Linked DNA regions of Homo sapiens: region 1 is linked to region 2. Evidence: fine-mapped expression QTL. A gene starts in region 2. The other region holds a variant in brackets. All regions are shown on one strand. Distances are from middle to middle. Region 1 overlaps NAV1 (neuron navigator 1). Region 2 holds the start of RNPEP (arginyl aminopeptidase).

Evidence for each region. PIP is the estimated chance that this variant, and not a neighbour inherited with it, causes the effect. A credible set is the group of variants that fine-mapping cannot tell apart.
Region 1: its variant is the best candidate, but not a certain one, in a credible set for the expression of RNPEP in whole blood (INTERVAL, PIP 0.83).

Annotation. Positions count from the first base shown.
Region 1 is chr1:201,626,060-201,637,049 of GRCh38, reverse strand. NAV1 (neuron navigator 1) reads right to left here. Exons shown (of 34, transcript NM_001389617.1): 4 at 7,543-7,646. LOC124904482 (a long non-coding RNA gene) reads left to right here. Exons shown (of 2, transcript XR_007066789.1): 1 at 1-6,691. Among named protein-coding and RNA genes, the nearest start is that of MIR5191, 88 kb to the left of the region's middle. RefSeq lists an enhancer at 8,112-8,613. The variant C/T (reference allele first, on the strand shown) is at 5,979.
Region 2 is chr1:201,976,622-201,987,611 of GRCh38, reverse strand. RNPEP (arginyl aminopeptidase) reads right to left here and starts at 4,964. Exons shown (of 11, transcript NM_020216.4): 1 at 4,499-4,964. The coding sequence starts at 4,945. SNORA70H (small nucleolar RNA, H/ACA box 70H) reads right to left here and starts at 9,151; the gene lies at 9,017-9,151. It also overlaps the pseudogene RPL10P4. RefSeq lists silencers at 1,488-1,662, 4,379-5,058 and an enhancer at 5,269-5,328.

The sequences.
Region 1 (10,990 bases), 350 kb after region 2:
AATCACTGGCAATTACTTGGCATATAAAAATTGCTCTGCAAATGTTAAGAGTATTCATTGGCGTGATAGGTGGGAGTTCCAATGCCATGATGAGAACGTTGCCTTTCACAGGGCCTGATGTCATCACAAGGGGCTTGCCACCTCTGTGCTCCCTCCTGCCTGCATGCAACCTCAGATTCTTCAGCAGGAAGGATGCTGTGAGCTCATGAGGTCAGCTTTTGCCCCTGGACTGTGCCAGTGTTTATATGAACCTCAGGCTGTTCTCCTTCCACTTCCACTGGGGCTGAGCTTTCCTCCTGCCAGGAAGTTCTCTTATTTATCTGACCTCAGTCATTCATACCACAGGACACTCTCATTTCCTTCTCCTGGAAGGATTTTCTTGAGAGAAGGGACAACTGAGCATTTCTCCGCTCTCCCCTCCTCCCTGGGCTCATCTGGTCTCACGTGGATGACTCCACACTTGCTGAACCTTCCTATGTCCTGACCTTTAATTATCTTCAGCTCCCTCTGAAGCCTGGGACTCCCACCACCCAGGAAGGCAAGTTTTTTATTCCTTCCGCCCTTTTAAAGGATGAATATTGTGGCTGGGGTAATTCTCAGCACTTAATCTCTCTGGCTATTGTGTCTGTGTCACCTCTCTCTTCAACTGCCTCTCTCCAGAGCTCCTTCTGTGTAAGCCTGCCCGCAGCCTTATAGTGGGGAGGGAAGTCTCTCACCAGGGGACCCTAATCCTCTTACAAAGGGGTTTGGGGGGTCTTGGGATGGTGTGTTCCAGTTTCTGCCCATTCAGTGGTGCTGGAGGGAGACTTCAGCCTTGGCCAAGACTGGCATGGAGCCAGCACTTCTTGAGATAAAGCCCCCTCTGCAGGCTCTCTGTCTGCCCTGGGCCTTCCCAGGGAGACAATAGTTCAGAGTTATAAGGAGGGCTGGCCAATCTCTGCCCAGGCATGGGGCAAAGATCTGAGGGGCCAGATCTTCAGAGCTGCACTGGAGGTGAGGCTTACCTGGATTGGCCAGAGAAGTAGGGAGCAGCAGTGGTGGAAGTTTAGCAAATAGTTCCGCCTCCCATAGCTGAAACTTGTAACTGCTCCACAGCTCCCTGGATAACAACCTCTAAAGCTGTATGGAGCAGTCTGAGCTGGAGAGATTCCTGTCAACCAGGCCACCTCTCCTTCAGTGTCCTTTTTCCCAGAACCTGTCCATGGCTCATAGACACATGGAGAACTAAACAAGGGGTTGGGATTTCCTAGGAGGAGCTGAAGCAGATCGCTGCAGGTTGGAGAGTGGAGTCTCTAAAAATCTGCTAAGAGGCTGCCAAGTCAAGGACAGGTAGGTATTGGGTATAGGGGGTAATTCTCTAGGAAAACTACAGGGGAAAGTTTATCACCTTCCTCATCTATTCAAGCACTCAGGGCGAAGGGGGGTGGCCCACAGACTGCTGTTGCTTATAGTCCCAGGAATGTCATGAGGCCAAAGCTCTGCTCCTGCTCCTTAGGGTGGGAGACATATTCCAGAGCTGGGGCTTCTCCAGGGCCACCATGTAGATCACGTACAGCTGCACAGGTTGTACACTGCACAGCTCTAGGCTACATCATAAAGGGCCCACAAGTGTAGAAGTCTTTGCCTATTTTGTCCACAAATGTATTCCAAGCTTCTAGAATAACACCTGGAACACAGTAAGTGCTTTATAAAAAATTGGCAAATGGGTTGGGTGCAATGGCTCACGCCTGTAATCCTGGCACTTTGGGAGGCTGAGGCGGGCAGATCGCGAGGTCAGGAGATTGAAACCATCCTGGCTAACACAGTGAAACCCCGTCTCTACTAAAAATACAAAAAAAAAAAAGATAGCCAGGTGTGGTGGTGGACGTCTGTAGTCCCAGCTACTTGGGAGGGTTAGGTAGGAGAATGGCATCAACCCAGGAGGCGGAGCTTGCAGTGAGCTGAGATCGTGCCACTGCACTCCAGCCTGGGTGACAGAGTGAGACTCTGTCTCAAAAAAACAAAAAACAAAACAAAACAAAACAAAAATTGTCAATTGGATATGAATTTCCTCTGGAGTTGGGCAATGCAGAGGTCCTGGTTTTCTTGGTGCAGCGAGAAACAGGGAAGCTGGGTCTTGCCAAGATTTCTTGATTTCTGGGACCACAATCAGGATCTGGAGAGCAAGGGATTTGTACTATATGTGGAGCACTCATAGTTGCAAAAACCACGTAGAATCACTCACACACCTTTTAGAGTGGGAGGGCCTGAGTCCAAGGTAGCCACGGGGAAAAGAGGCTCCAAGCTGACCAGCTTCTGCTATTCTTGCCACTCCACTGAAATGGCTAACATTGGGTCAAATCCACTGCCTTGAGATAAATCCCCTTCCCAGCCAAATATTGTCTTGAAAAGTCAATCTCCTCCCTCCTCCTGTACTCCTCTAAAGAAATAGCATCCAGACTCCTACAGTTTCTATTTCAAACCCCTCCAGCAGGTACCTCGGATGACCTTACTTATCTGGCCTCTTCCTTCATAGCCCCTCCCAGAGCCAGGCTGGTGATCCCACTGCCTCTCCTGGCCTCCCTGGGAGAACTCCCAGACTTGAGTCATCTTCCCCTCCAGTGAGGTCATAGAACGTATGGTTAAGAGCATGACCTCTGAAGACCAGCTGCATGGGTTCAAATCCTGGCTAGACCACCTTGGGCAAGCCACTTAACCTGTCTATCCCAGTTTCCTCATCTGCAAAGTGGGTGTGATAATAACATCACTTGCCTCAATAACAAATAACACCAAACACATATTGAGCAGTTCTTATGTATCAGCCATTCTTCTAAGCGCTTTACCAATATCCATGCATTTAATTCTCACAAAACCCTATGAGGAAAGCACTGTTATCATCCCTGGTTACAACCAAGGACACAGGGGCACAGACAGACTAAATAAGTTCCCCAAGGCTGCATAGCTAGCAAGTGAGGAAGCTGTGATGCAAGGCAAGTAGGGAGTTAGATTCCAAACCTCATGCAGTTGTTAGAAGGATTAAAGGTGCTTATAACAATGCCTGGTTCACAGTAAGCCACGGTAAGTGTCGGCTGCTGCTACAAGTGCTATTATGACCTCCCGTCCCAGTTCCTGGAAGCCTACCAGGTCCTAGATTGCTGCTTTGTTTATCCAACAGAGTCTCCAGAGACCCTCGCACTCCCAAGCCACCTCTGCCCCACAACAGCACCAACCTGCTCAAGCTCTGAGAACACGGCTAATATCATCTGCCCCTGAACTGTTTCTACTTTCTAGTCAATTGTCTGCATGTCTTCTCTCCACAGATGACTGGGACATAAGGCTCATCTTGGCCTGGAGGTCCCCAGAGGGCAAAGAACACAGCAGTGTGAACTCAGCATGAAATGACATAGGTTTGGAGTGACAGGGATGCCAGTGGCATCCTGGGACCTGCTCAGATTGAGGGAGATGTGAGCAGGGACTGTGGCTCACTGATCCCATTTCCTTCCTCATTGCTTGGCAGAGGCTAAGGGAGACTGAGTTGAGCTTGGACAGTGTGCGACTGAGTGAGTACTGGCGGCAGTTGGGAAGGCAGGGAGTAAGAGAAGAGTGTGGCCTTTTGACAAGCCTGGGATGGAATCCTGGCACAGCCTCCTAGCTGGATGTCCTCAGACAGGTTTTATATAACCCTTCTGAGCCTGAGTTTCCTATCCATAACACAGAGTAATAATAACACCTTCAAAGGATTATATAAGGTATTCATGAAGGACTTTATGTAAAGCACTTGGCACTATGCCCTGCACATAGTAGGGTATTCAATAAGTGATAGTCATTATTACCATTTAGTTCTTTTTAGTGTTTAAGGAGTCAGAAAGCAGTGGTCCTGGTTTAGTTCACCTGCTAACTTCCTATGCAGTCCTGAGCAAGTCACTTCTCTTCTCTGAGTCTCATCTCTCCCTCATTGAAAAGGAGGCCAAATTTGGGAGATCTATAAAGTTTGTTAGAGCTTTGACTTCCTATGTTCTTTGATGCAAGTCATTTGTAGTCCAGGAATACTTGGATTTGGTTTGAAACCCCCAGAACAAACTTCTCTCCCAGAGAGTAGTTACCATTCCTTGCTCCTGCCCCAGGCACACTAGCTTTGCAAGTTCTCTTAGAATGAATACTCTATTCCTGCTCTATTTCAAATCCATAAGGCATGAAAAACTTCACTGTGGCTTAAAGATGGAGCCAGCTCAACAAGGGAGAAGAAAGAGGAAGAAAAGCAAAACAGCCCTAGTATGAGGCCAAACTCCACACTGCCCCACCCATTCTCTCTATATATCAACCCTCGTGTGAGAAGGAGGCAGGGAGGAGGCTCTGGCTTTTTCCTGATAACACGTACTATGATGAGAAAAAGATCCCTTCATTGTGGGTCCACTTAGTGCTCATTCAAACATGCCACAAAGTGGAAGTCATTAAAGAATCTGCATAAGCCTTGGGGCAACCTTTCCCAGTCCTCCTGCACACAGCCTCACACATGTGGGCACGCGGTAACGTCAGCCTTGGCTTCTCTTGGCTGTCCAAATTAAGATCTGATGGTGGTCTATACACTACCCAGTGCTGACTGCAACCAAAGGGAGAGTCAGCAGATGGGACCAGTGCTGGGCTGTCACCAACAGAATCAGATGGGCCAGGGAGGGTCAGGGCACATGTACAAACATCAGTGGGCTGGGCATTTCCACACTTGCCCCAGGGCAGAGGCAGAAGGAGCAGCTGCTGGTGGATGGCCTTCAGGATATATGAAGAACATCCCCAGTGCCCCAGGTTGGAGGCAAGTCATCATGGGAAATTCTCCTGCTATATAAATACTAGAAAGCCTTGTTTGGACTCTATGCCCAGAGTCCAAGCAGATTAAGAAAGTGGCACAAGGCTGAGAAAGCTCTTTGGCCTTCTCCTGCTCCGCTCAAAGACTCTGCACTCACCCCCCAAACCCATTCAGTGAGCTTGGAAGACAGAGAGAAGCACATTGGGAAAGGAGCAGAGAAAGACTGGTTGGTCTTTCTCAGCTGGTAGAGAAGAAACAGGCTGATAGAGGACAAATTTTAGAGCTCTACAACCACTTACATTGGATTCCTTACTCATTCATTCAAATCATACCTTCACCAAACCCTGACCGCCAGGCACTGTGCTAGGTGATGGGGGGCAAGATGAGTTCATGGTCAGGAAGGGAAGATACATGAGCTTCAAAAAAAAGCCCCCAAACCCCCAGCCATCTACAAATTGATATGGAAATAACATGATCAATAACTGTCAAATAACTATGCTGGATTCTGTGAATTATATAAATATTTGATGGAGTACTCTCCAAAGCACCCAATTATCCTTCTATAAATGGGATAATAAGCTCAGTGCCCTCCTTATGCCATGGGGCCTAGCGAGGGAGGCAGGACTGACTGGCTGCCTTGTCAACCCCTATAGGGGCAGGTCACTGGGCACAGCTTCTGGGATCCCAACAAATTCTCTAGATAAGTCTCACTGGAGTGAATCCCTGGGCTGTGAACATCTTGAAGGCAGGTCAAAGTCTTATTTGTCTTTTACCCCAGTGTCAAGCACAGTGTTCAGCACAAGGCAAACACTCACTGATGGTTTGTAGATTGAATGAAAGAATACATGAATGAATGAGTCATGTCATGCCCCAAGTGACTTTGGGAGTGAGAGGGCAAGGCATAAAATGAAATCCTTCAGTTGCCTCCTCTCTTCCTCTCTTCTCTGTTTTCTTCAAGCTCAGAAGAGCGCAGGCTCTTCCACAAGGCAGGCAAATCCGAAATCTCTCTCCCCATCCAACCCATCAAAGAGCTCGGCGTATCCTCGGCAGAGATGGGTCACCATGACAACTAGCTAGCACCAGAGCAGAGGCAGTGCAGTGAACCCTGCTCCTCTTCCCTAGGAGCCTTGGAGAAAGCCAGTGTTTCTCACTTTTCTGGTAAAACCCTCCTCCAAATGTTCCCCGGCACTCTGTCCCC[C/T]CAGAGGTACCCAACCGTGATCTAGCAGACAGTTTCACATCTAACCAGTGAGGGTGGTCTTCCAGCTGACAAGCCTGGGGGATTCCTAATGCTAGTCTGCAACAGACGTTAAAAGTAAAAGACCTCTCATCAACTCATCGGATAATAATCGTGAACGAGCGCTGGGTTAGGTGCATGGAGATCATTAGGCTCTAACAATGTGGCATCCACATGAGGAAGCCATTACACTAACAAAACTGCAAATGTAAAAATAGAGCTCCACATAGTTTCCTGGTTACCACATTCTAATTCTGATGGCTTTTCGGTGCCAGAGAAATTTGGTTTCCTTTTGTCCCCTGCCATGCCCTGGTTCTCTTGCATGTATATTTATTGTGGAAGGAGATGGCTTGCTTTGCAAATGCTGAGTCCTTAACCCATAACCCTCCTCCACAAGGCTTGTCATGGAAGAATGAGTGTTGCTGCTCTGTTTTTAGGGTTGCAGTGGCTCCAAGATCACTGCTATAGACCAGGCCTAGAAAGGGCTCAAAAGGTCCCAGCTCCCAGGCCAAGAAGGGATATCTGGCCACCTGCCCAGCAGGGCACAGAGAAGACAGAAGCAGTATACCATCCTGTCCGGTGATCTCAGGGTCAGGCTGTGTTCTAAGCCCCAGCTTGGCCCGCTGGAGCAGGGCACCAAGACAAAGCTGGGAGACAAGCCCTCTGGACAATCTCAGGTTTGTGAAAAGGAAATTTATTACTTTGTTGAGGCAAGTTTCCCTTTGTCTGGGAAAGTAAAGGATTGACCTGGTTCCCTGCAGTGTGCAGCCTCATGTACCCCTGGTGTGAATCATAGCCATCCTCTAGATACTTTTTTAATGTTGTAGGAAAATCAGCACACGTCCGTAAGTGCTGCTGAGTTTTGAATCTGACCCACTTAGGGCCTGACCTATGGTACCCAAGACACTCACTCATCCATGCATCATTCATTTATTCAGAGACACTGAGCACCTGAAGATGCATCTGAGACTGTCAGGGTCTCTGCCCTTATTGAATATTGCTGTATTTGAAATTTAGGGATCTTCCTGGTGAATCTCACATGCCTGAGCCTCAGGTGATATCTCATGACTACAGGATGACACGGGGAAGGGGACATGTGTGGGAGTGGCCTGTTAAAAGTGGTCCTGGAAGGGGAAGTGTTGTCAGGCAGCAAGCCAGATGGCTCTGGCCTGCCTCCCTAATTCCAGCACCTTCATTTTTCAACCTGGGCACCACTCAGAACCTGGCTCTCACTCCCAGCTTGTTACCTTTGTGTCAGGACTTCTCACATGACACACACATGCAGTGACTCCCATAGCCTGGGCATCCCCTGGCCACTTCCCTATGCTGCCCCTAAAAGGCTCCTGGGTTTGATGGACCAACCCTGGGTTGAGTCAAGCATGATGAAAACTCAAAGTGCAATTCACAGGTTGATGTCTCCTTGTCAAGAGATGGACCCATCCAGCCTAGGTCACTTCTTCTTCCATCTAGGCAGCTCTAGCACAGTGGCCTCCCGACCCTAGGAGGAAGTCTCCCCCAGATCACTTACCCATGCAGGAGAAGCTCTCCTCAGTCTCATGGAGGGGCTCAGCATAGCCATCAAGGGGCCAGCTGCCCTGGGAGAGGGGGCCAGGTTTCTGGTCAGTTTGCAACCTGTGGGACCAAGAAAGGGTAGTCACTCATGGTAGAGATGTCCTGGTCTCTAAGCCCCTCCATGGGGCTAAGAAAACCCTCTTAGAACTTGGTTCTTCTTCTCTGATAGTGCCCTGCACCACTCAGGGCCAGCCCCTCCCTGATGGGTATGTGCACATGCCTGCCCTCCAGCAGGCAGCAGGCCTTCTGTGCAAAGCTGCGCCAGGCAGGGAGCCCCAGAGGATACTGGGATGCCCGATGCTTGTCACCCCTTGACATTCTACAGTCTACCCATTTCCCAGGAACGTTATCACTTATAGGGCAGAGGGATACCCTAGCAACTCCAGGCCTTGGGTCCTTTGTCTTGCCAGGATCCTTGCCCTCAGGATGAGCATGTATGTACAGCCATGTACATATACACAGGGAAGAGCTCCCTCTGAAGCTGAAGTCACTGATTCCTGGTAGCTCAGGGGGCACACAGGCTTTGGGCTTGCTCGTAGTCCAGGCAGCTTGTAGGTCAGGAAAGAAGGAGGAGTAGGCTCAGCTGCAATCACAGTGACTCCCGGGAGGACAGGTCTCTTGCTGGGCCCGTTGTGGTAGCAGGAAGGAAGGGTGAGGTCTCTGGGCACCAGCTCCCAAGTGCACACAGACCTCTGAGCACAACCTCAACCGTACAGTTGCTCCCAGGAACAAAGGCTGTGGGAGCTTTCATTATAGGCAATTACCCTAGGCTCTGGGAGCTGGCCCGCCCACCCATCCGCCCGCTGTCTCCAGCTAAATGGAGACTTTGGCAGCTTGGCAGGAGGGGGAGGGGAGGGCTGTGCAGGCAGGAGGGGAAATTGAAGGGCTGGGCCATGGAACCCTGAGAGTCTCCAGTGCCACTGAGATTTGTCTTTCTCTCTCTCCAGTTTTCACTTTTTTCAATGCCTAGATGGCCGGGACTCTGGGCTCAATTTTGCCATTAACTCACTGTATAACCTGGAGTAGATCTCTTCTCCTCTCTGGGTCCGGCTTCCATCATGGGGTGAAAAGATGCCCCTCAAGGCTGGGATCTGTTTTACAGTCTAGGGTTGTGAGGTGTTTGCTGCTTCTGCTCAGCTTTTTCTAAGCTATTTAGGCAGTGCTGAGCTCTTTTGTATCTCAGGCCCCTCAGGTGAATGATGGGGATAGTGCAGGGTGGGGTGTCGTTAGAGAAAGCAGGAGGCCTCATCCTGGCCCCTGGGGGTGCTTGGTATGATGGGGACAATCGCCATGTACTACTGTCTCTCTTTTTTTTTTTTTTTTTTGACACAGGGTCTCACTGTGTCACTCAGGCTGGAGCACAGTGGTATGATCAAGGCTCACTACAGCCTTGATTTCCTGAGCTTAAATGATCCTCCCACCTCAGCCTCTCAAGTAGCTGGGATTACAGGCTCAAGCTACCACGCCTAGCTGATTTTCATATTTTTTGTAGAGATGGGGTTTTGCCATGTCGCCCAGGCTGGTCTCGAACTCCTGAGCTCGAGATCTGCCCACCTCAGCCTCTCAAAGTGCTGGAATTACAGGTGTGAGCCACTGCACCAGGCTCTTATTGTCAATTAAATGTCTGTCCAAGTACACAAGTGCCAAGGGGATAAAGAAAGACTGGGGTTGGTTGGTTTCTTGGAAGAAATTAGAATGGACCTGGGATTTTGAAGTAGGGGATGCAACATATTGGTGAGAAAGTAACAGAAAATTCTACTGGGGAGAGGGAATTCTATATAATGTGTCAACTGTTTCATTGATTAACATCATATATGTAAAGAGCTAAGCACAGCGTCTGGGCCAGAGCAGGTATGCAATAACCAGTGTTAAAAATAAGAATAGGCAGACGGGTGCAGTGGCTCATTTCTATAATCCCAGTACTTAGGGTGGGGGGGCCGGGGCGGATGGATCACTTGAAGTCAGGAGTTTGAGACCAGCCTGGCAAACATGGCGAAACCCCGCCTCTACTAAAAATACAAAAATTAGCCAGGCTTGGTGGTGCATGCCTGTAATCTCAGCTACTCGGGAGGCTGAGGCAGGAGGATCGCTTGAACCAGGGAGGTGGATGTTGCAGTGAGCCGAGATCGTGCTACTGCACTCCAGCCTGGGCGACAGAGTGAGACTCCATTTCAAAAAAAAAAAGAAAAAGAAAAATAGGAATAGGCCAGGGTGGTGGCTCACAACTGTTAATCCCAGAGCTTTGGAAGGCCGAGGCAGGAGAATTGTTTGAGCCCAAAAGTTTGAGGTTACAGTGAGCTATGACTGTGCCACTGCACCCCAGCCTGGGGAACAAAGCAAGAATCTGTCTCCAGTAAATAAATTAAAGACTAAAAACAAAAAAAGAAATAGTTACAGTCACGATTGTTGCTGCCATTAATATGATGCAAGAGTGGGTGAGGTTACATCAGTCATATGGGCCAGAAACTCCAATGGCAGAAACATTGAGGAAGGCAGGCTTTATCTCTAATTTCAGTCAGCTCTGTATTTTTATCCACATCTGCCTCCATCTCTCCAAACATGGCCAGGCCTCCATGTCCGCCCTCACTTCTCAGCCTGAGTGGACAGCACTCTGTATGCCAGAAGTCAGGCAGAGGTTGAACCAGAGAGAAGAAAATTGCAGTAGTGACACCAGTAACCCTACGCTCCTGATACCATTAACCATAGTTCCAATTGAAGTCCAACCCAAGGCCCACCCAATGCAGGAAGAAGAGAACTGTTGGGGGTTAGGGAGGTGGTAAAGGGTGCACTGGCAGTTGGGAAAAGTCAGCAAGGGCTGTGGTGAAGCTGCTGTGGCTCTCTTCCAGGATAGCAGAGAGGGATGAGGTTGAGGATGTGATGGAATTAGATGTGTGAGACCAGGGTCTCCTGAGAGCGGACAGGGGATTGCACCTTCTCTGGGTCCAAAGGGAAGTGATGGATGAGAGGAGACAAGCTTCACTGGGAAGGCCACACCAAGGCCCTTGAAAAGAGAGGGCTGTGGAGGATGGGGCAGGGGAGAAGATGGCTGCAAGATTCATTCCCTGGAGAAGCAGGTCAGGCATGACCAGGCTGGAGATGGGGAGGGAAGCAGGTGACCTCTGCTTCTGCATTCCACTGGGGCTTTGCAGAAGGCTGAGGTGCTGGGGCGGGTGGCAGGGAGGGAGGAGAGATTTCCACAAAAACACAATGTCTGTGGATTCTAGGAAGCAGATGGCACCTCCTTGGCTATGAAGCTTTGAAGGGTGGCCCAGCCTGGCCCTTGGCAGAGCTGCCATGGCAGCAGCTCTAGGCCCTGCAGAGTGTGCTGGGTGCCTGCCCATTGGCGTGCAGCATCTCGGAGTGTCCTTGGTCCTAATCGCACCCTTGAGCCTCAAATCTGTCTT
Region 2 (10,990 bases):
ACAAAAATTAGCCGGGTGTGATGGCATGCACCTGTAATTCTAGCTACTCAGGAGGCTGAGGCAGGAGAATTGCTTGAACCCAGGAGGCAGATGTTGCAGTGAGCTGAGATCATGCCACTGCACTCCAGCCTGGGTGACAGAGCGAGACTCTGCCTCAAAAAAAAAAAAAAAAAAAAAAAAAAAGTAAAATCTGAATGATTTATCACAAAACCCAGTTTTTGCCTATAGCAAACAGCCATTCATTTACCTGGAAGAGGGGCAGGATGGAGCATAGGTCAGTAACAAATAGCATTTAGAATTTAGAAATGGATTCGATTACTCCAGGATGATTTCATAGGGGAAGAAAACTTTCTGGCTGGACCTTCAAAGACACGCAGGATTGAGATGGCTGGAAAGGAAGGGAGGAGACATTCACAAGGAGACGAGCAGCAACATGAGGAGAGGCATAAACAGATGCAGGCTCCAGATGCAGAGTTGGGGAGGCAGGCCTGGGCAAGTCTAATGAAGGGTTCTGAACACAGCAGTGTCTGAGACCTATTTTAAGAGGCATAAGGAAGCTACGTTGGGATGCTGGGTTTGAGTTTTTGTGTGTGAAAAATTTAATTAGTCTCCTTATAACAGGTACAGTGCAGTATAGAAAGGGATGAGAGAATAACTTCACAGTGGAGAAAGCTGATAATCACTGCTTCAGCCAGGGGACCGAGGTTAACGCTGACAGTCATAAATCATGTGGATACTATGCGCCCTCAATACCTGATGAAAATGGCACTTTGGCTGGGCGCAGTGGCTCACACCTGTAATCCCAGCACTTTGGGAGGCCGAGGCTGGTGGATCACCTGAGGTCGGGAGTTCAAGACCAGCCTGGCCAACACAGTGAAACCCTGTGTCTACTAAAAATACAAAAATTAACCAGGGTGGTGGCATATGCCTATAGTCCCAGCTACTTCGGAGGCTGAGGGAGGAGAATCGCTTGAACCAGGGAGGCGGAGGTTGCAGTGAGCCGAGATCACACCACTGCAGTCCAGCCTGGGTAACAAGAGTGAAACTCCATTTCAAGAAAAAAAAAAAAAAAAAAGAAAGAAAATGGCACTTTACCTCTGTGAATTGCCCCTCAAAACCCATAATCCCAATCTAATCATGAGAAAACATCAGATAAATTCCAATACAGGGTCATCCTACGCTATACCTGGCCAACACTCCTCAAAACTGTCAAGGTTGGCTGGGCTCAGTGGCTCACACCTGTAATGCCAGCACTTCGGGAGGTCAAGGCAGGAGGATCGCTTGAGGCCAGGAGTTTGAGACCAGCCTGGGCAACATAGGGGGACCCTGTCTCTACAGAAAAAATAAAAATAAAAAAATAAAAAACAAAAAACTGGCTGGGAGCAGTGGCTCATGCCTGTAATTCTAGCACTTTCTTTGGGAGGCCAAGATGGGAGAATTGTTTGTTTGAGCCCAAGCGTTTGAGACAAGCCTGGATAACACAGTGAGACCTCATCTCTACAAATAATAAATTCAAAAAATTAGCTGGGCGCAGTTGTATGCGCCTGTAGTCCCAGCTACTTGGGCTGAGGCAGGAGGATCACTTGAACCAGGGGGATCAAGGCTGCAGTGAGCCATGATTGTGCCACTCACTGCACTACGGCCTGGATGACAGAGCAAGACCCTGTCTCAAAAAACAAACAAACTGTCAAAGTTATATCAAAAACAAGGAAAGTTTGAGAAACTGTCACAGTCCCAAGAGGATACATGACAGCTAAATATAATGTGGAATTCTGGATGGCTTCCTGGAACAGAAAAAGACATTAAGTAAAAACTAAGGGAATCTGAAAAAACTATGGACTCCAGTATCGGTACTGGTTTATTAATTATAACAAATATATTATTATACTAATGTAAAATGATTCAATCTTGGTTAATAATATATCAGCATTGTTTAATTGTAACAAATGTGTCATACTAATGCAAAATGGTAGCAAGAGGGGAATCTGTGTGTATATGTGTATGTAGGAGGTACTGAACTGTATATGGGAACTCTCTGAACTGGCTGCTCAATTAAGCCAGGCATGTTGGCTCATGCTTGTAGTCCCAGCACTTTGGGATGCCAAAGCGGGCAGATGGCTTGAACCCAGGAGTTCAAGACCAGCGTGGGCAACATGGCAAAACCCCATCTCTACAAAAAATAACAAAAATTAGCCAAGTGTGGAGGTGGCAGGTCTGTGGTTGGTCCCAGCTACCCCAGCTACTCAGGAGGCTAAGGTGGGAGGATCACTTGAGCCAGGGAGGTCAAGGCTGCAGTGAGCTGAGATGGTGCCACTATACCAGTCAATAAGAATTGATCAATTGACTGATCATTGAATGCCATCAGTCAGTGATGTTTTTACTGATCAGCTAGGAAATGAGTATTTTTTTTTTTTTTTTTTAGATGGAGCCTCGCTGTGTCACCCAGGCTGGAATGCAATGGCATGATCTCAGCTCACTGCAACCTCTGTGTCCCAGATTCAAGCGATCCTCCTGCCTCAGGCTCCCAGGTAGCTGGGTTTACAGGTGTGAGCCACCACAACCAGCTAATTTTTGTATTTTTAGTGGAGGTAGGGTTTCACCATGTTGGCCAGGCTGGTCTCAAACTCCTGACCTCAGGTGATCTGCCAGCCCTGGCCTCCCAAAGTGCTGGGATTACAGATGTGAGCCACCACACCCAGCCTGGAAACGAGATTTTTAAAAAGAACAATGTAGGGAGCTTTTTGATCCCTTCTCAAAAAAAAAAAAAAAAAAAAAAAAAAAAAAAAAAAAGAAAGAAATACAAAAGTTAGCAGTAAGAGCTAACACAGCTTACTTACCATGTACCACGCACCATATTAACCACTTATGGAAAGACAACTCATTTAACCTATGTCAAGCACTTAGACTAGTGCCTGGCTCATCTTATTAAATATTAGCCATCATCCCCCCTCCACCAAAATTGCTTACTCATCATCTTTGCTTTTTTGTTGTTGTTGTTAAAACAGGGTCGCACTCTGTTGCTCAGGCTGGAGTGCAGTGGTGTTATCAGGCTGTGAAAGGAAAATCTCTTGGGCCCCCAAAATCACTAAAGAAAACTCAACCTGGGAACCGCTTAGGGCACACCTGCCTCCCATTCTATTCAAAGCCACTACTCTGCTCACTGAGATGGATGCATATCTGATTTGCTTCCTTTGGAAAGGCTCATCAGAAACTCAAAAGAATGTAACCATTTGTGTATCACCTATCTGTGATCCGGAAGCCGCTTCAAGTCTTCCTGCCTTTGCTGCAAGTTGTCCCACCTTTTCAGACCCAACCAATGTACTTCTTACATATACTGACTGATGTATCATGTCTCCCTAATGTATAAAACCAAGCTGTGGGCCGGGCGCAGTGGCTCACGCCTGTAATCCCAGCACTTTGGGAGGCCGCCGAGGCAGGCGGATCACGAGGTCAGGAGTTCGAGACCAGCCTGACCAAAATGGTGAAATTTTGTCTCTACTAAACAATACAAAAATTAGCCGGGTGTGGTGGCGCACGCCTGTAGTCCCAGCTACTAGGGAGGGTGAGGTACGAGAATCGCTCGAACCCACGACGCAGAGGTTGCAGTGAGCCGAGATCTTGCCACTGCACTCCAGCCTGGACGAGAGTGAGACTCTGCCTCAAATAAATAAATAAAAGATTAAACTGTAAGCAAGCAGTTTACTATGAAACTTGCAACCAACTCTACCTGAGAGATAACTGGCAGCCACAGCCTAAGGACTCTCCAGGAAGGATTTTCTGACTCTTACAGACATAAGCCACATAACTCCATCCTCTTATTTCCAATATTTGCCCCGTCCCGAAAAAAAATTAAAGAGTTAACCAACAGTGAGAAGGCCAAATTATTATAATGCTTATAGCACCCTAATTCCAGTTCTCACTTTTACTCAAATTCTTTCGTTAATCAAATCCAGGACTTCACAGGAGGAAACAAAAACAAAGATAAGAGCTTTAACCGTGGAACTAGAAGGCAACACAGAACAAAGAGCTAGATCAACATCTGGCTAATTCTAGAGCCACCATAAAGCAGAGATAAGGTGGCTGATAATCAGGTACCTCGGCCCAAAAGTCCAAGAGGGCACTAAGTGAAGTGCATGAACAACAGGTCATCTAGAAAGCCACGGAAAATGTTAGAAACGGCAGTGTGCGATGAGCGGGAATGCGGCGCAATCTGGACAAGCCTCCAGGGCCAGGGAGGAGACGCGGAAGGACGGAAAGGGTGAAGGATGCACCGCCCAGTGGCTGGAGGAAGTCCAGAAGGAAACCAGGCAGCCCGGGAGGAAAAGAGGAAGCAAGGGGAGGAGGCCTAGAGGCGGCGCGCGGGGAGTAGGCCCCTCTAGGGACGCTCTGGAAGGGTCCTCCCTGTCCCTCCTCCCGGGTGGGGTAGGTGAGGGTGCAGGGCGGCTGGGGGCCGGAAGGGCAGGCAGGCAGCGGCGGGCGCAGTCTGGGGCGCACTCACCCCGGGTCCCTCCCCGACGCGGTAGGTGAGCAGCACCTGGAGGCGCTCGGCGGCGCGGCAGGGCTGCGGGAAGGACACGCACAGGGCCTGGCCATAGTGCGAGAAGGGCTGCGTGTAGAAGCTCACGGGCTCCGCAGGCGGCTCCTCCGAGCCGGGCCGCTCCCGCCGCAGCGCCGCCGCCGTCACCTCCAGGCACGGGTGCGAGTCCAGCCGCAGCTCGGCGGCGCCCTCGGGCTCCAGGCAGCGCAGGTCCAGGACCGCGGTGCCGCTCAGCCCCCGGCTCCCTGCGCCGGGCCCTGGAGGCCCGAACTCAGCCCGCAGGTCCAGGTGCAAGTGCAGCAGCTCAAAGGCCCGGAAGTTGGAGGCCGAGGCCACGTCCACAGCCTGCGCGGAGTGCAGCGGCCGCCGGGCCGCGCCGCTGCCGGGGGAATGCTCGCCGCTCGCCATGGCCGCAGAGCCGTTGCTCACCGGCCGGGCCGCGAACCCGAGGGGAGCCCCGCCCCGAGCGCCGCGGGCCCGCCCCCGCCGCGCGGGCCCCGCCCCCGAAATCTGCTCCCGACCGCATCCCCTCCCTGCGCTTTACCGCCCACTCTTCTAGCTGCACCCGTGCCTCGGGACTTAGGACAAAAGAGGCCGGTGGGATCGTGTGGCCCACGTTTGCCCACCCATATCCTACTGAGGTGTTCCAGTCGTCCCGGTGGGGCACCCTTCTCTGCTGACCCTTCCTGCTGCCTCATCTAGGCAGTGGCGTGGACTGAGCCCTGGCTGGGAAGGTCTGAGTTCCAGATCTCACACCCTGCGATAGGCCAGTTGTTAGAACTGTGTGTCACCTTGGGCAAGTCGCACAAGAAACATGAATCTTCCCGAGCCTTTTTCTGCACCAGTATAATAGAGTCATAATATCTGTGTATCTCACGAAGTAATGTGAGAACTCTACCAGGTAACCTGTCTAACACACTCAGCAAACAGTGAAACCCTGCACAACTTCACGGAATTCACACTGGATCGAGCCTCGTCCCCCAGCAACTCCAGGCACGCCTATCTTTCTATTGTTGGGTTAAGGGACAGGAATCAGCACCGCGCAATTTAAGGCCTGGCTGTCCATCGCATGTCACTTCTATTTCCCTTACTGTATTGTACCGCTTATTGAGCTAGGGTATTCTCCGCTGAATACTTTGTTTCTCTTCTGTACCAGTGGGTTGCAATGGGCCTTCTATGAATAGGAGCTAATCAATGATGATGTTTTTACCGTTCAGCTAGGAAATGAGATTTTTAAAAAGAACAATGTAGGGAGTTTTTCATTAAGGGAAATAGTATTCCGTTCTGTGCTTCCTAGTTTTGTAGAGTTGAAATTATTTTATTTCATGAAATAATGCTTATGGTAGATAATGACTTTAATATTCCATGTAAGTTCAATGTCAGGGTTTTTTGTTTAACTCCAGAAACCTTAGAAACCTGCTTTTCTGTAGCATTGAGAACAGCGCTTGGTACATATTAGACGTTGAATACTCCTATCTTGAAATTATTCAGTCTTCGATGCAATGCACTTTTGCTGAGTATCTGCTAGACACCAGTTGTTAAGCTAAGTGCCTGGGGTACAGTTTGAATAAGTCCGGCACAATTCCTCTTCCTATGGTGTTCATAGCCTAACTCACATTTTAGCAGACGCACAAGAAAACAGGTCACGACACTTCCACGTGCTGCGCTTGATACGGGAAGAAAAGGATGCTGGGGAGCACAACGAAGAGATGCCTAGCCTGATCCTTCTAGTTAAATATTGACAGAGGAAGAGGATGTCATCCTTAGCTAAAGGGTAAAAGATTTTAGGCTGGGTGTGGTGGCTCACGCCTGTAATCCCAACACTTTGGGAAGCTGAGGCAGGAGGATCGCTTGAGCCCAGGAGTTCAAGATGAGGCTACGCAACAGAGGGAGACCCCCTCTCTACAAAAACATTTTAAAAAATTAGCTGGGTGTGGTGATGCACACCTGTGGTCCTGGCTACTCAGAGGATGAGGTAGGGGTATTGCTTGGGCCCAGGAGGTCAAGGCTGCAGTGAACCATGATCATACCACTGCACTCCAGCTGGGGCAACAGAGAAAGACCCTGTCTCAAAAAAAAAAAAAAAAAAGATTTTAGGAATTATATTATTTCCCCTTATAGCCTTACTTCTTCCTGGGAATACCAGGAACCTCATTTCCACTTCCGCCTCCCTGCATGGCTCCCACACTGTCTAGTTTGCCTCAGAACTGGCCTGTAGATGGCCTGTAATAACTTACAGTGGAGAGATTCAGGAATTCAGAGAATTCAGGATTGTAGAAAGGGGACACTGTGGGCACAGCCCACCTCTCCCCCAGTTCATTTTCATTATTTATTATTTATTTGTGAATGCTTAGAATGCAACATATGTTGGACATTTCAAAATAATGGCCACAAATTTTCCATTCCTGATTCTATAGATTTAAAAGTTACAGGGCCGAGTGCAGTGGCTTATGCCTGTAATCCCAGCACTTTGGGAGGCTGAGGCTGGTGAATCATTTGAACTCAGGAGTTCAAGATCAGCCTGGCCAACATTATGAAACACCATCTCTACTAAAAATACAAAAAATTAGCCGGGCAGTAGTGGCACACACCTGTAATCTCAGCTACTCGGGAGGCTGAGGCAGGAGAATTGCTTGAGCCTAGGAGGCAGAGGTTGGAGTGAGCCAACATTGCGCCACTGCACTCCAGCCTGCATGACAGAGTGAGACCCTGTCTCAAAAAAAAAAAAAAAAAACAGTAAAAAGTTACAATAAATTATTAGCAAAAATAAAAATAAAGCTACCTATAGACATGTTTTAGTTAAATTGAAGAAAACCAAGACATAAAGATCTTACAGCAGTGGAAGAAAAGAGACAGATTATCTACAAAAGAATGGCAATTAGAAATTGGACCAAGGTGCCAGGTATGTTGGCTCACACCTATAATCCCAGCACTTTGGGAGGCCAAGGCGGGCGGATCACCTGAGGTTGGGAGTTCGAGACCAGCCTGACCAACATGGAGAAACCCTGTCTCTACTGAAAATACAAAATTAGCCAGGCATGGTGGCGCATGCCTTTAATCCCAGGTACTCCGGAAGCTGAGGCAGGAGAATCACTTGAACCTGGGAGGCGGAGGTTGTGGTGAGCCGAGATCACGCCATTGCACTCCAGCTTCGGCAACAAGAGCAAAACTCCGTCTCAAAATAAGAAATTGGACCAAGGGCAGACCTCTCATTAGCAACATACAAGCTGGAGACATTATCTTCAAAATACTGAGAAAAAAAAGCCAACTGTCAAATTGGAATTGTATACCCAACTAAACTATTATTTGGTCATGTGCAGTGGCTCAAGCCTATAATCCCAGCACTTTAGGAGGCTGAGGCAGGAAGATCTCTTTAGCCAAGGAGTTCCAGACCAGCCTGGGCAACACAGGGAGACCCTGTCTTTATAAAAATAAATAAAATTAAAAATGAACTACTGTTAAAAAGTAAGGGAAAACAGATTTTTAGATAAAAATTGAGAGTATTTACCATCCATAGACTCCTAACGAAGAAATTCTAAAGGAATTCTTTTTTTTTTTTTTTTTGAGATGAAGTCTCGCTCTTGTCCCCCAGGCTGGAGTGCAATGGTGCGATCTCAGCTCACTGCAACCCCCGCCTCCCGGGTTCAAGCAATTCTCCTGCCCCAGCCTCCTGAGTAGCTGGGATTACAGGCGCCTGCCACCATGCCTGGCTAATTTTTGTATTTTAAGTAGAGACGGGGTTTCACCATGTTGGCCAGGCTGGTCTCGAATTCCTGACCTCAGGTGATCCGCCTGCCTCGGCCTCCCAAAGTGCTGGGATTACAGGCGTGAGCCACTGTGCCAGGCCAGGAATTATTTCAAGAAGGAAAGGAATCACTGAAGGAAAGAATGAGATGCAAAAAGGAACAGTGAGCAAAAAAAGTAGATAAATTTAAACAACTGTATAAAACAACACTAATAATATACTAATAATGTTTATGTGAGGGAATCAGGATAAAACTAAAATAACAGACTAAAAGTACATAAGAGAGAGGGGTAACTGAAGTTAAAGCATTTTTTTTTTTAGGTGGACAGAAAGTAGAATTTATTGGTGAGTATTAAGAGGGGGCAGCACAGTGGAAGCCCTCATGAGTGCAGGACCCGCCACTTGTCCAGAGGGCCATGATTGGGAATGTACTTGACCCATCTGGGATGAGCCGCTTCTCAGCCACCATGTCTTCAAATTAATTGGCATTGAACTTGGTGAAGCCCCATTTCTTTGAGATGTGGATCTTCTGGCGGCCAGAAAACTTGAACTTGGCCCTGCGCAGGGCCTCAATCACATGCTCCTTGTTCTGCAGCTTGGTGTGGATGGACATAACTTGGCCAATGTGAACCCTGGCCACAGTGCCCTGGGGCTTTCCAAAGGCACCTCGCATGCCAGTTTGGAGCCTACATTGGGGTAGTGTAAGGTCAGAAACATGAACATCCATCTGAAAGGACTGTCTCCAAGGTCCCTTAGAGCAACCCATACAACAAACAGGCTGCATACACTACCAAGGAAGCTGCTATTTACAGCCATTGCACACTGGGCCCCCATGAGGAAAGGAACTCAGTCGGCTTAATTGGCTGCAGGAAGTTAAAGCATTCTAAGCTCCTTGTATTATCAGATGGAGAGTAGGGATAAATGTGAGATCTTAAGTATCTGTATTAAAGTTTTAAAGGAAACCACTTAAGTAATATAAATTGAAGACAGTATATAACTCATAAGCCAATAAATGGGGAAATATGTAGTTTAAAAAAAAAAAGCAAAAAACTTGGCCGGGCACAGTGGCTCACACCTGTAATCCCAGCACTTTGGGAAGCTGATGTGGGCAGATCACCTGAGATCAGGAGTTTGAGACCAGCCTGGCCAACATGGTGAAACCCCATCTTTACTAAAAATATAAAAATTAGCCCGGTGTGGTGGCGGTAATCCCAGCTACTCAGGAGGCTGAGGCAGGAGAATCACATGAACCCGGGAGGCGGAGGTTGCAGTGAGCTGAGATTGTGCCACTGCACTCCAGCCTGGGCAACAGAGTGAGACTTTGTCTGAAAAAAAAAAAAAGGAAAAGAAAGAGTAAGACAGGATATTATTACTTCAAATCGAGGAGGCAGAAACCTGGGATGGTAAGTAGTTCACAAATACCTAGGTATAATTCACAAATACCTAGGTATAGTTCACAAATACCTAGGTATAAATTGCTTGTTAATGTTCTAGCTCACATGTTGGAGTATTATCTGTCTAATAATACAGTCTCAAAACAAATAAAATAAAAATTGGCTGAGCGCAATGGCTGATGCCTATAATCCCAGCACTTTGAGAGGCCGAGGCAGGTGGATTGCTTAAACTCAGGATTTTGAGACCAGCCTGGCCAACGTGGTGAACCCCTGTCTCTAAGAAAAATACAAAAATTAGCTGGGCATGGTGGTGCATACATGTGGTCCCAGTTACTTGGGAGGCTGAGGTAGGAGGATCACTTGAGCCCAGGAGATCAAGGCTGCAGTGAGCCGAGATCATGCCACTGCACTCCAGCCTGGGCAACAGAGCAAGACCCTGTATCAAAAAATAAAAAAATTAACAGAACACAAGGGAAAATGGACAAATTCACCAACAGAGTAAGAAACGTTACATGCCTCTCCCAGTAATTAAAGTAATTAACAGATCAGGGAATACTTTTTTTTTTTTTTTTTTTTTTTAGAGATGGAATCTTGCTCTGTCACCCAAGATGGAGTGCAGTGGCACAATCTTGGCTCACTGCAACCTCTACCTCCCAGGTTCAAGCCATTCTCCTGCTTCAAGCCATTCTCCTGCCTCAGCCTCCCAAGTAGCTGGGATTACAGGTGCGTGCCACCACGCCCAGCTAATTTTTGTATTTTTAGTAGAGATGGGGTTTCGCCATGTTGGCCAGGCTGGTCTCGAACTCCTGACCTCAGGTGATCCACCTTCCTCTGCCTCCCAAAGTGCTGGGATTACAGGTGTGAATCACTGCACCTGGCCTTTTTTTTTTTTTTTTTTTTTGAGACAGGGTCTTGCTCTGTTGTCCAGGCTGGAGTGCAGGGGCATGATCTCGGCTCACTGCAATCTACACCTCCAGGGTTCAAGCAATTCCTGTGCCTCAGCCTTCAGAGTAGCTGGGACTACAGGCATGTGCCACCATGCCTGGCTAATTTTTGTATTTTTTAGTAAAGACGGGGTTTCACCATGTTGGCCAGGCTGGGTGCCTTTCTAACTCCTGGCCTCAAGTGATCCACCCATCTCAGCCTCCTAAAGTGCTAGGATTACAGGCGTGAGCCACTGCACCCAGCCTGTATTTCTATTTACTAGTAATGAACAATGAAATTTGAAATTTAAAAACCGATACCAGGCTGGGCACAGTGGTTCATGCCTATAATCCCAGCACTTTGGGAGGCCGAGGCGGGTGGATCACCTGA